Homo sapiens: one gene and its partners. The protein of the gene in region 1 purifies or fractionates together with the protein of each later gene. This does not show direct contact. Each region holds a gene or a part of one and is shown in the gene's direction. Other genes may lie near its edges.

Region 1 (4,194 bases):
GACGATGGTAAAAGGCGCCACCATTTCTGTGTCTCAGAAGGGGGGAGGTGAGAGTCATCTGCAATTAGCGGATAATTAGCGCTGCTGACCCTTGGGGCTCATCAGCGCTCCTGGGGCCAGCCCCCAGCAATCAGCCAGGGCAGGTCGTGAGTGTCAGGCCCGGGAATGAATAGGGCTCATCAGCGGCGCTGGAGCTGGGGAGCCAATCAGGGAAAATTAATAGCAGAAGAGAAGGAGAGAGAGCGAGGGAGGGAGACAAGAGATAGACAGACAGACAGACAAGAGATACAGATAAAGGAAAGACATGAGAAAAATCGAGTAAGAGGGACTGGGATAAGGAATGAGAGATGGGAAAGAAATAATCAGAGGAATAGGAATAGAAACGAGGACGGGAAAGGGAAGAGGGGTGGGAGGAAGAAAAAGAATGTAAAGGACGGGAGAAAGATGGAGGGGAAAGGTCAGAGGAATGGTAAGTACTTGGCATAGTGTGGGCACTCAAGGAAATTACCCACCGAGGCAAGAGAAAGGGACTAGGGGAAGTTGGAGATGGAGGAGGGAATGAGGAAGAAGGTGAAGAGCCAATGCCAAGAGAATAGAGACCAGAGGCCAGAGTGCGAATGGGGCAGATAGGAGGAAAGGGGCCCCGTAAGAGTGGCCCTAAGCCGCAGAACCGGGCGGGCCCAGCGCGCCCCCTGTCGGCCCCGCCTCGCCTCCCTCAGCCCCGCGCTCTCGCTGGAGGGGGCGGTGGCCGTGCTGTCCCGCCCGTCGCGCCGGAGCTTGCTCTGGGGACCGCCACAACGTCCGCTCCACGGGCAGGGGAGGGGTGTCGGAGCTGGGAGGCACGCCGGGGAATGACTTGGGGCCCGAAGGAGGGCGGCGGCCCGGAGCAGAGGGGTGCTGAGGTCCGGCCCCGCCGCCTGTCCCTGCTGGTGCGCCCTCTCCGCCTGCCGCCCGGTGTCCCATCCACGCTCGGCCCCGCCGCCCCATCGGAGCCTGGGCCACCTCCCGCTTGCCCTCCTAGCCGGAGCCCGGGCCAGGTGGGCTGAGTTGGGGGGGTGGACTGGGTGGAGGGAAGGGGACCGGCCCAGCAGCTGCCGCCGCCTTCTCGTCGGCCGCAAACTTTCACAAAGCGGCGTGTCCGGCCTCATCAATCTCCATTAATAATAGTTGGTTGGGCCGCGGGGGGCGGGTGGGGGTCCCGGGCCGGCCGGCCGGGCCGCTGGGAACGGGCTCTGCGGAGGGAGCGGGAGCCGGGCGCGGCGGCGGCGGGCGGAGGGAGGAAATGAAGCGTAATTTGAGGAAGATGGATGAGTCCGGAGGGCGACACCCCCAGCCCGCCTGCTCGCCCGCCCCCTCCCTCCTTATGAGAGAGAGGGAGCGCGGCGCCGGAGCCACACTGCGCCGAGCCCGCGCCCCGCCGCCACCTCGGCCCGGGAGCCAGGGAGCGAGCCCTGCGTGTCCGCGCGGGGCGCCCGAGCCGCGGGGCGCACGGAGGCGCCCAGAGAGGAGCGCCCCGGGGCGGCCGCAGCTCCGAACAAGATGCAGCGGGCCGGAGGCGGTAGCGCCCCTGGGGGCAACGGCGGGGGCGGCGGCGGGGGCCCGGGCACTGCCTTCTCCATCGACTCCCTAATCGGGCCGCCGCCGCCGCGCTCCGGCCACTTGCTGTACACCGGCTACCCCATGTTCATGCCCTACCGGCCGCTCGTGCTGCCGCAGGCGCTGGCCCCTGCGCCGCTGCCCGCTGGCCTCCCGCCCCTCGCCCCGCTAGCCTCTTTCGCCGGCCGCCTTACCAACACCTTCTGCGCGGGGCTGGGTCAGGCTGTGCCCTCGATGGTGGCGCTGACCACCGCGCTGCCCAGCTTCGCGGAGCCGCCCGACGCTTTCTACGGGCCCCAGGAGCTCGCCGCCGCCGCTGCCGCCGCCGCCGCCACTGCCGCCCGAAACAACCCCGAGCCAGGCGGCCGACGCCCAGAGGGTGGGCTGGAAGCTGATGAGCTGCTGCCGGCCCGGGAGAAAGTGGCAGAGCCCCCACCACCTCCGCCTCCGCACTTCTCAGAGACTTTTCCAAGTCTGCCCGGTAAGTGCTAGGGCCGACCAGGGCTGGCGGGAGGCCGGTTCACCTGGAAATTCCAGACAGGAACCTGCTCGGAACCTCGGCACCTCGGCACCTGCCTGGAGCCTTGAAGTCCCAGACCTTTAGATCGCGCGCAGGTTCTGACTCCAATTCAGTTCCAAATACAGCCTCTTTAGATTCCAGAACCCCCGCCCTGCTCTGTCCCCATAGCCCTGAAGGCTAACCGAAGACTTTGCAGTGCTCCCTTCACATTAGTGCCTTTCCCTCAGCATCCTAGCCATCAAGACTTGGCCCTGTCTCCTTTTCAGAATTCCTTCATTTTTTTCCTCCTCTGTCAGGGGTAGACAAGCTACAAGGATGGGATTTCCGGGGGCACCAAGATGGGGGTATGTTGAAGCAGCTGTCAATTCAGCAATGGAGGGCACGTTCTGGCTTCTAAGGAGATCATACTGACCCTAAAGGCTCAAAGGATAGGAATAGGCTCTGTGGATGCAGGGGCAAAAAGAGTGTGTGTGTGTGTGTGTGTTGGGGGGGGGGGGTTGCGTCTCAAAGCCGTGACTTCTGAATTGGCAGATTCAGAGCTAAGCCTTGAAGAACTGAGTAGGGGGCCAAAGAGAACATTAGCTACAGGAGGCCTAGCACACGCTGGACAAGTGCTGACTAGGAGACCAAGAGAGAGGCTAAAGGCTGGGCTGAGTTGGGTGTGGCCCAAAGATCTAGGGTGCAGAACCCAGCTAAGATTCAGCTGACAGATAATTCAAGGGCCCTGGACCCTCCATGAATGGTGCCCTCTCCATAGAGGCAGGGTGTATTAAACTGAACCTTGTTTAGAGTCCATTCAATTAGAGCCCTCCTGACCTCTCTATTGGTCCTTAACTCCTAGAAGCCAGAAAAGCTTTCTTCTGGCTAGACAGATTCAGGTGTTCTGAGTTCCAAAGCTTATACAATTTGCTGGGCCCTATTTAAGAAAAATAGGCACCACTTGCAAGTGTGGGGACTCTGATGCTTCAACATCTTTAGTATCAGGATGGAACCGCTTCTGCTCAACCATTCATTGCATCCAGCTTAGAGGTGGAAATGACCCCAGTAGGCCTGGGAGCTGACTTGAACAGAGACAAGAAGGGAATGCAAGAGTGCTTTTGTCCTTTGCCAGCAGAGATAATTCTTGATTATCAGTTATGGGGCCCTTTCTGACATTGTCCAAAGGGTTAATCACTCTTTCAGACCCCAAAGGCTGCCATGGGGCCTGTCTTCCTATTCTTTTCTCCTTTCGCCCTGGCATTTTGCTTTTGGGGATTCAGCTGTTGTTTTCTTTTTTGTACCTGGTTGGATCAGGAAGACCCAGTAACTGAAGTCAGAATAGCATCTTCTAAGGGGGATCATAAGGAACAGATAGAGCAGCAACTGGAAGGTGGGAGAAAATGTCCACAAGATAAAAGGGCCCAGGGCGGGAGCCTGGAAGCCAGCAGGATGATCTTAAGAAAAAAAGATTAGTATGATTGTCAGAATAGGATGGTCCTAAGGCAGAAAAAAGAGTAAGACAGGCCATCAAAGAGATGACTTTGGAGGAGATAGGACCTGAAGGTGTAACCAGACACATATAGAAAGAGATGAGCTGAAGAGAGAGGATGGAGGGGGGATCCCTTGGTAGCGGGGACTTAGGGGCATATGCCCAAACTGTGGGACAACAAGCAATTTGTCCCACCCTTTCAGGTCTGCTCAGTTCTTATTTTGACCTATATGTATAATGGGAGCTCTTTTCTGGATCATATAGTATATTGGCTATAAAAACAGACATTGAGAAAGAGAGGAATAAGCAGAGAAAAAACAGAAGAGAAATACTGATGAAACAAGAATAGAGGAAAGGACCAGGGGATGAGTTGTATACTGGAATATACAAAGAGAACATGAAGAAGGAGAGGGTTCTCTGCTGGAAAAGGAACTCTGGACTGGACTAAATGAAAAGTGAACTGTATTACTGGACCACAAGTGTGAGTGAGTGTGTGTGTGTATGTGTGTGTGTGTTTGTGTGTGTGTGTGTAAGAGTTCTGTCATGAGAGGATTTGGGGGGAACTAAATAAAAATACTAGGGGAATAAGGAAAAGTTTCAACACTAGGAG
Region 2 (3,609 bases), on another chromosome or scaffold:
TGGTGGCTGAAGTGACCCTTCTGGAGCAAAACCATAATCATATCACTCCCTCTTTTAAAATTCTGTGATGGGTCAGGCATGGTGGATCACACTTGTAATCCCAGCACTTTGGGAGGCCGAGGTGGGAGGACTGCTTGAGCCCAGGAGTTCAAGACCAGCCTGGGCAACATAGCGAGACCCCCCGTCTCTACTTAAAAATAATAAAATAAAATGAAAAGAAAATTTTTTTTGAGATGGAGTTTCGCTCTTGTTGCCTAGGCTGGAATACAATGGTGGGATCTCAGCTCACGGCAACCTCCACCTCCCGGGTTCAACCGATTCTCCTGCCTCAGCCTCCTGAGTAGTTGGGATTACAGGCATGTGCCACCATGCCCGGCTAATTTTGTATTTTTAGTAGAGACGGGGTTTCACCATGTTGGTCAGGCTGGACTCGAACTCCTGACCTCAGGTGATCGGCCCACCTCGGCCTCCCAAAGTGCTGGAATTACAGGTGTGAGCCACTGTGTCCGGCCAATAAAATGAAATTTTATGATGGCTTCTGCGATCTGGCCAAATTCCTCAGCTAAATAGTTTAGTTCTTTCTCCCTGTGGCCTCTCCTCCCACCATGTCACCTGTGAATCCCACACTGCCCCCACCCCGACACTGTCTGCAGGTGAACAGATCAGTTTTCTCAGCCCCAAATGTCAGCCCCACCCCACACCTCTGCCTGGCAAACATCACTCACCGGTCCTCAGAGACACCTAGTCATTTATTCCATGAGTCCACCACACTTGAGAAACGCTTCTTTTCTTCGCGAGCACGCCTACCCTGTGCTAGACAGTGTTCCTAAGGGCTTTCAAACATAAAGTCTTTTGTTTTTTGTTTTTGAGACGCAGTCTTGCTCTGTCGCCCAGGCTGGAGTGCGGTGGCACAATCTTGGCTCACTGCAACCTCCGCCTCCCAAGTTCAAGCAATTCTCTGCCTCAGCCTCCCGAGTAGCTGGGATTACAGGCGCTCGGCTTTTTATTTTTTTAATTTTTTTTATTTTTTGTATTTTTAGTAGAGACGGGGTTTCACCATCTTGGCCAGGCTGGTCTTGAACTCCTGACTTCAAGTGGTCCACTTGCCTCGGCCTCCCAAAGTTCTGGGATTATAGGCGTGAGCCACTGTGCCCAGCCTCCAACTCCTGGCCTTGTCTTCCTCCCACCCTGGCTTCCCAGAGTGCTGGGATTAACAGACATGAGCCTCCACACCTGGCAACTTCTTTCCATTTTTCACTGATTCTCTGACACATCCTCATTGAGCACCTGCACTGTGTGGGGTGTTAATAATTGCTAGGCATGGAGGCAACAGCGTGGGCAGCTCTTTCTCTTACTTGTCAGGCTTTAGCCTATGCTGTTGCAGGACTGTGCCTTGGCCTGGAAGCCCCTTCCCTTATCCTCATCCCCAATCTCCCCCTTCAGCTCTTGTTCCTCTTGCAGGTCTTCCCTTAAACATCACTTCCTCAGCAGGGGCCTCACAGACACGCCCGGAGGTTAGATCCTGGTCCCTCTGTGCTTCCTGTTCTTCCCCCATCATCACAGTCTACGGCTGTTTCCTCTCGATGGGCAAAGACTGTGTCTGGCCATTGAGTTTTCTGCTATATCCAAGTGCTTCGTATACTGAACCATATAAATGTGCTGCTTTTATTGGTCAAAACGGCCAAATATTGGCAATTTTATATTGGTTAGCTTCATAGTATGTGAGCTAGGATACTTATCCCATCAGAGAGGTTGCGTAGCACAGTGAATCAGAGCCCAGGCTCTGGGGCCGCACACCTGAGGTCCAGCCCTGGCTCTGCCACTTGTCACTAAGTGATTGTGGACTGGAGACAACCCTCAGGGGCCTTGGGTTCCTAATCTGTGACAGGGATGACAATAATGACCTCCTCGTGCTGTTATAAAATACAGAAATGTACTAAAATACAAAAATTGGCCAGGCATGGTGGCACATGCCTGTAATCCCAGCTACTCAGGAGGCTGAGGCAGGAGAACTCAGGAGGCAGAGGCTGCAGTGAGTCTACTTTTATTGCCAAAGCTCGGGGGTCCATCCCTTTTCCATTGCATGCCACTGCACTCCAGCCTGGGCAACAAAGTGAGACTGTCTCAGAAAAAAGAAAAAGAAAAAAATGTTTAAAAGCCAGGAGTTTGAGACCCTGTCTCTATTAAAAAAAAAAAAAATTACCTTGGCATGGTGGAGCAGCTACTCAGGAGGCTGAGGTGAGAGGACCACATGAGCCCGGGAGTTCAAGGCTGCAGTGAGCCATGATTGCACCACTGCATTCCACTCTGTCTCAAAAAGAAAGAAAGAAAAAAGTCAAGAGAACTGGAGCTGAAACCATGAAAGGTCAGTTTTCAGCAGGAGAGTGATCAAAGAAAACCAGAACTAGACAGTCGTTAAAATAGCAAAAACATATTGCATTCCAGACTATTGCTGTAGGGGAAGAGTGACCTTAGATCAGAACTGGGCTGAACTCTACACCATGGGGGTTATAGCCAACGAGCAGAGTTGGGGGCAGTGGATGGGACATTACCATGAGAAAGCACTGGGGGTTGGGGGTATTCTGACAAGACCAACCTAAAGGGATTCTTGCTGAGGGCAGGCCAAGGTGGTCAGACAGCGCCTGGGGGAGAGTGGAGAATGAGGACCCCCATCAGGGATCGGGGGCAATCAGATGTGGAGGATGAGGGACTGGCTAAGCTGACTTAGCAGTATTCTTGCTAAAATTGGACGATGCAGAGGTGAACACGGAAGTCCAAGGCCTAACTGGAAAAGAGCTGAGGGAACCTGAGTGAGGTTTGGCTATAGACAGAACCTCTGAGTGAGCCCATCAAAGTTACTTTATTTATTTGTTTGTTTATTAATTTATTTAAGACAGAGTCTCACTCTGTCGCCCAGGCTGGAGTACAGTGGTGCTATCTCGGCTCACTGCAAACTCTGCCTCCTAGGTTCAAGCAATTCTCGTGCCTCAGCCTCCCGAGGAGCTGGGATTACAGGCACATGCCACCACACCCAGCTAAGTTTTGTGTTTTTAGTAGGGACAGGGTTTTGCCATGTTGGACAGGCTGGTCTTGAACTCCTGACCTCAGGCTAATTTTTTGTTTGTTTTTATTCTCTTTTTTTTTTTTTTTGAGACTGAGTTTCGCTCTTGTTGGCCAGGCTGGAGTGCAATGGCGCGATATTGACTCACTGCAACCTCTGCCTCCTGGGTTCAAGCGATTCTCCTGCCTCAGCCTCCCGAGTAGCTGGGACTACAGGCGCACACCACCATGCCCGGCTAATTTTTGTATTTTTAGGAGAGACGGGGTTTCATAATATTGGTCAGGCTGGTCTCAAACTCCTGATCTCAGGTGATTCGCCTGCCTCAGCCTCCCAAAGTGCTGGGATTACAGGCGTGAGCCACCGCGCCCAGCCTTTTGTTTGTTTTTAAATTTAACTTTTTTTTTGAGACCGAATTGCACTCTGTCACCCAGGATGGATTGCAATGGCGCAATCTCAGCTCATTGCAACCTCTGCCTCCTGGGTTCAAGAGATTCTCCTGCCTCAGCCTCCCAAGTAGCTGGGATTACAGGCGCCTGCCACCACAGCTG
Region 3 (3,609 bases), on another chromosome or scaffold:
AAAACAGCATTGAATAAAGCTGATTAAGACTTGATACGGCACTGAGAGAACAATACAATTGATGAAGCATTATATATTTTTGGAAAAATATATTGCAAATGAAAATGGATCCCCACTGCTCTTAGGATAAAATCCAAGGTATTCTTAACAGGACATCAGAAGCCCTTTGTGGCACCTGTGAAAGCTGGCCCAACAAAACTTGTTGTCGCTCCACTGGTAGATCCCCTCCCCAGCCTGCACCTCCATCTTTATGTTTTTGCATACACTGTTCTCTCAACTCAGGCCAACTTATCCCATAGACCCCTGGACACCCACTTTTCCAGGTTATCTCCTATTCATTCTTCAGGGTTTAGCTCAGATATTCCTTAATCGCAGGCTGCATGCAATGGTCATTCTCCATGCTCCTCAGCAGCCTTTACTTCCGTATCACAGCTCTCATCACATTGAGTTGTGACATGCTGCCTGGCCTGTCTCTCCCTCTAGTCTGTAAGTAAAGTTCAGAGCAAGGCTGGGTCTTATTTGCCTTTGTAGTCTTGTCATTGCTTGGCATTTATTAGGAGCCTGATAAATACTTGTTGGATGCACAAAAGCATGAATGGATTTTGAATTTTTAAAAGGGCATTTATAATGAAATATGCCCATCCAAATCTAAAAATAAGCATACAGCTAGGTTTTAACAGAAATGAGGCCAGGTTTGAGAGAAATGTAACTGTTGGTCGAAAGCTAGACCAATTCAGTAATGAGCATTTTTTCATATGTAAAGACACTGGAAGTGAAAGAAAGATGGTTAATATATAGCCTAGATCCTTAACAGTTTTCTAATATAGACATGTCAAGAAAGAATTAGCTTACCAAAAGATTGTGCTTTTTCGACCAACAAATACAATCTACTGTATGATTCATCATAAAGGTCACTTTTTTTTTTTTAGCCAAAAAAGGAAACTCAAAATGTATACAATTTTTTTAATGAACTGACAATAGATGACTTTCATCTATAGATCTGTGTATTTCTTAATCGGTGTCATTAAGTTTTAATCTTAGCCATTTTCAGGTTTAATATTAAAAGTTCTTTGTATCATCTTTGGCCGTCTGCAGTTGTATATAAGCTTTGTGCTAACTTAACTGCTTTTTTAAATCTGTGCTCACCATCTTGAACTCCTTTTGGAAAAAAGCTATGTTTGAGATGGATGAAGAATGCTGGAGTTTAGATTGTGCATTTCCTTGTTGCGAAAGGTGTAACTCTGAAAAAACTAAATTACAGTTATTGTATATTAAACAGCTATTCCTGAAATTTACTTGGAAGCTTTTGAAAGAGTAGCTCAGTATCTGAGGAGAAGTTCTTCACGGTCCAAGAAATTAGGAAGTTCCATAACATGTGCCAAGGGATCTGGCAATTTCTACTACCTTTAGTTGCTTTATCCCACATGTCACAGGCCATAGTCTAGATGCAAAAAATATCTTTTTATTTCAATAACACATCAGAACATAGTTTTAAAAGTGCTAGAGATAGAAACTTTAAATTAAAATTAAAATGCGTGTAGTATTAACAGCGCAAATGTCACCACCAAGGAAGCAACCAGATGAGCCAATGCCTCCTGTGCAGTGTTAAGTTTGCATGTGCAGAAAATTACTGTTGTTGTATTGTGGTGTAGTACTCTACCTGGTAGCTGGCAAGTGTGTTTGGCATACATTGTAAGCCACTTCCTAATTTTAGAAGTGTTATGCTGTGAAAAAAGTGCAATTAGAATTGGAGATATTTGACAAAAGTCAGGGTGAATAAATAGTATAATAATAGTTATATAAAGTGCAATAGGGGTGCAGAAGAAGGAGCCATAATTTTAACCAGGAAGACTAAAGAAGGCCACAGTGGAAGTTGATATTTGAGCCAGAAATCTGTAGGAAAAGAAAGAAAGAAAACCCGTTTTGGGCTTTGGGCTAATGCACAGTGGCATCATAGTGCATGGTATGTTTAGAGAATTGCATTTAGGCTTGAAGCTGGAGCCCAGATGGGTGGGAGGTGCTATAGCAGATGGTGCTGGGAAGATAAGACCCAGGTCAGGGTGAGTCTGCTTGAGGAGGTTGGACTTTATTCTGCAGGCAGTGGGAGGCCAGTGAAGATTTGGAGATGGGGTGAGGTAGGGCTGACTTATCTACTAGGCACAGTGTCTAGAAACCACAATAATTTTAGGGTCCACAAAAATGTTTACATTTTAATTGCCTTTAAAAATCAGAATAAAATAAATAAGTATAACAATAATGAATTCATCTTTATTCAAATGCAGTCATTAAAATATATGTTTTTTTTTCTGTTAATAGAGGAATAGGTCCATGAAGGTAAAAATGCCTACGGCCTACAAAAGTCATACTGCAGCCCCAGGGAAAAGAGGGCAAAATGTGAATCCTGGAGATAATTTACAGCTGTGTGAAGGATGAATCCCACCGGTGGTTCCTAACTGTGATCTGGCTGCATCAGATGTACCTGAGTAAACACAGATTCCCTACTATGCAGCCGTAAAAAGGAATGAGATCATGACCTTTGCAGGGACATGGATGGAGCTGGAAGCTGTTATCCTCAGCAAACTAATGCAGGAACAGAAAACCAAACACTGCATGTTCTCACTTATAAGCGGGAGCTGAAGATGAGAACACATGGACACATGGCAGGGAACAACACACACTGGAGCTTGTCAGGGCATGGGTGGGGCGGGGGAAGGAGAGCATCAGGAAGAATAGCTAATGGATGCTGGGCTGAATACCTAGGTGATGGGTTGGTCTGTGCAGCAAACCATCATGGCACACGTTTATCTATGTAACAAACATGCTGCACATGTACACCAGAACTTAAAATAAAAGTTGAAGGAAAAAAAGGAAAAGAAAACACAGATTCCTGGGCCCCAAGCATGTTTGATTTAGGAGGAAGGGGAGGGGTGTGTTGGAAGACAGAGCATGCCAGTGGAGGACCAGGAGAACAATCAAATTGCAGTTTAGCTGATGACCTGAGAAACAACGAAGGCCCTAGCCAGGGCAGTGTCAGTGAGACTGGGAAAAAGTCAGCCTGGGGAAGCATTGCACAGGTGAATGACAGACTGACAACCAACCAATGGTGGGGTCTGAGATACAGGAGATACCTGGATGGCAGCAGGAGAGAAGGTAGTATTTCTAGTCTCAGCCAGAAGTGGAAAATGTGATCAACTGTTTTTCTCTGCTGCAAGTTCACCATGAACATACTTGTGGAAGGGCTGAGAATACTGTTAGCTTGGCACAAGCTTTCACCAGGCTTTCAGCTTTTTGGTAGGCTGCCCATTAGGCTGTGCAGATGCCCAGGGGAGTGCTGTGGAGGGGTGTGTGGTAGAAGCAGGCCCTGTGTTTGCCTGGAGGAAGAGTGAGATAATGGGTAGAAATGCTAGAACTGAAGCTCTGTGGCTCTGGGCTGAGTCCAGGCCTAAGGCCCGAGGCCAGTACGGTGTCTGTATCGGGTGGCCCCTTCTCACTGGGAGAGCCCTAGACTCTGGTTCCTTGCTTGTTGATGGAGGCACAGCAAGAATAATCAAACACCTGAGAAACTTGGAAGATGATTATTGAAACCAGAATTTTTTTTCAGAATTCTCT

Evidence for each region.
Region 2: the proteins of GBX1 (region 1) and QPRT purify together in Homo sapiens (affinity purification with mass spectrometry; one large-scale study listed by BioGRID and IntAct). This does not show direct contact.
Region 3: the proteins of GBX1 (region 1) and DNAJC6 purify together in Homo sapiens (affinity purification with mass spectrometry; one large-scale study listed by BioGRID and IntAct). This does not show direct contact.

Annotation. Positions count from the first base shown.
Region 1 is NC_000007.14:151,164,894-151,169,087, reverse strand, and holds the start of GBX1 (homeobox protein GBX-1), read left to right. Parts: upstream 1-1,393; 5' UTR 1,394-1,539; coding exon 1,540-2,077; intron 2,078-4,194.
Region 2 is NC_000016.10:29,685,648-29,689,256, forward strand, and holds part of QPRT (nicotinate-nucleotide pyrophosphorylase [carboxylating]), read left to right. Parts: intron 1-3,609. UniProt on the Homo sapiens protein: Involved in the catabolism of quinolinic acid (QA).
Region 3 is NC_000001.11:65,316,011-65,319,619, forward strand, and holds part of DNAJC6 (auxilin), read left to right. Parts: exon of another isoform or gene 1-138; intron 139-2,316; exon of another isoform or gene 2,317-3,609. UniProt on the Homo sapiens protein: May act as a protein phosphatase and/or a lipid phosphatase.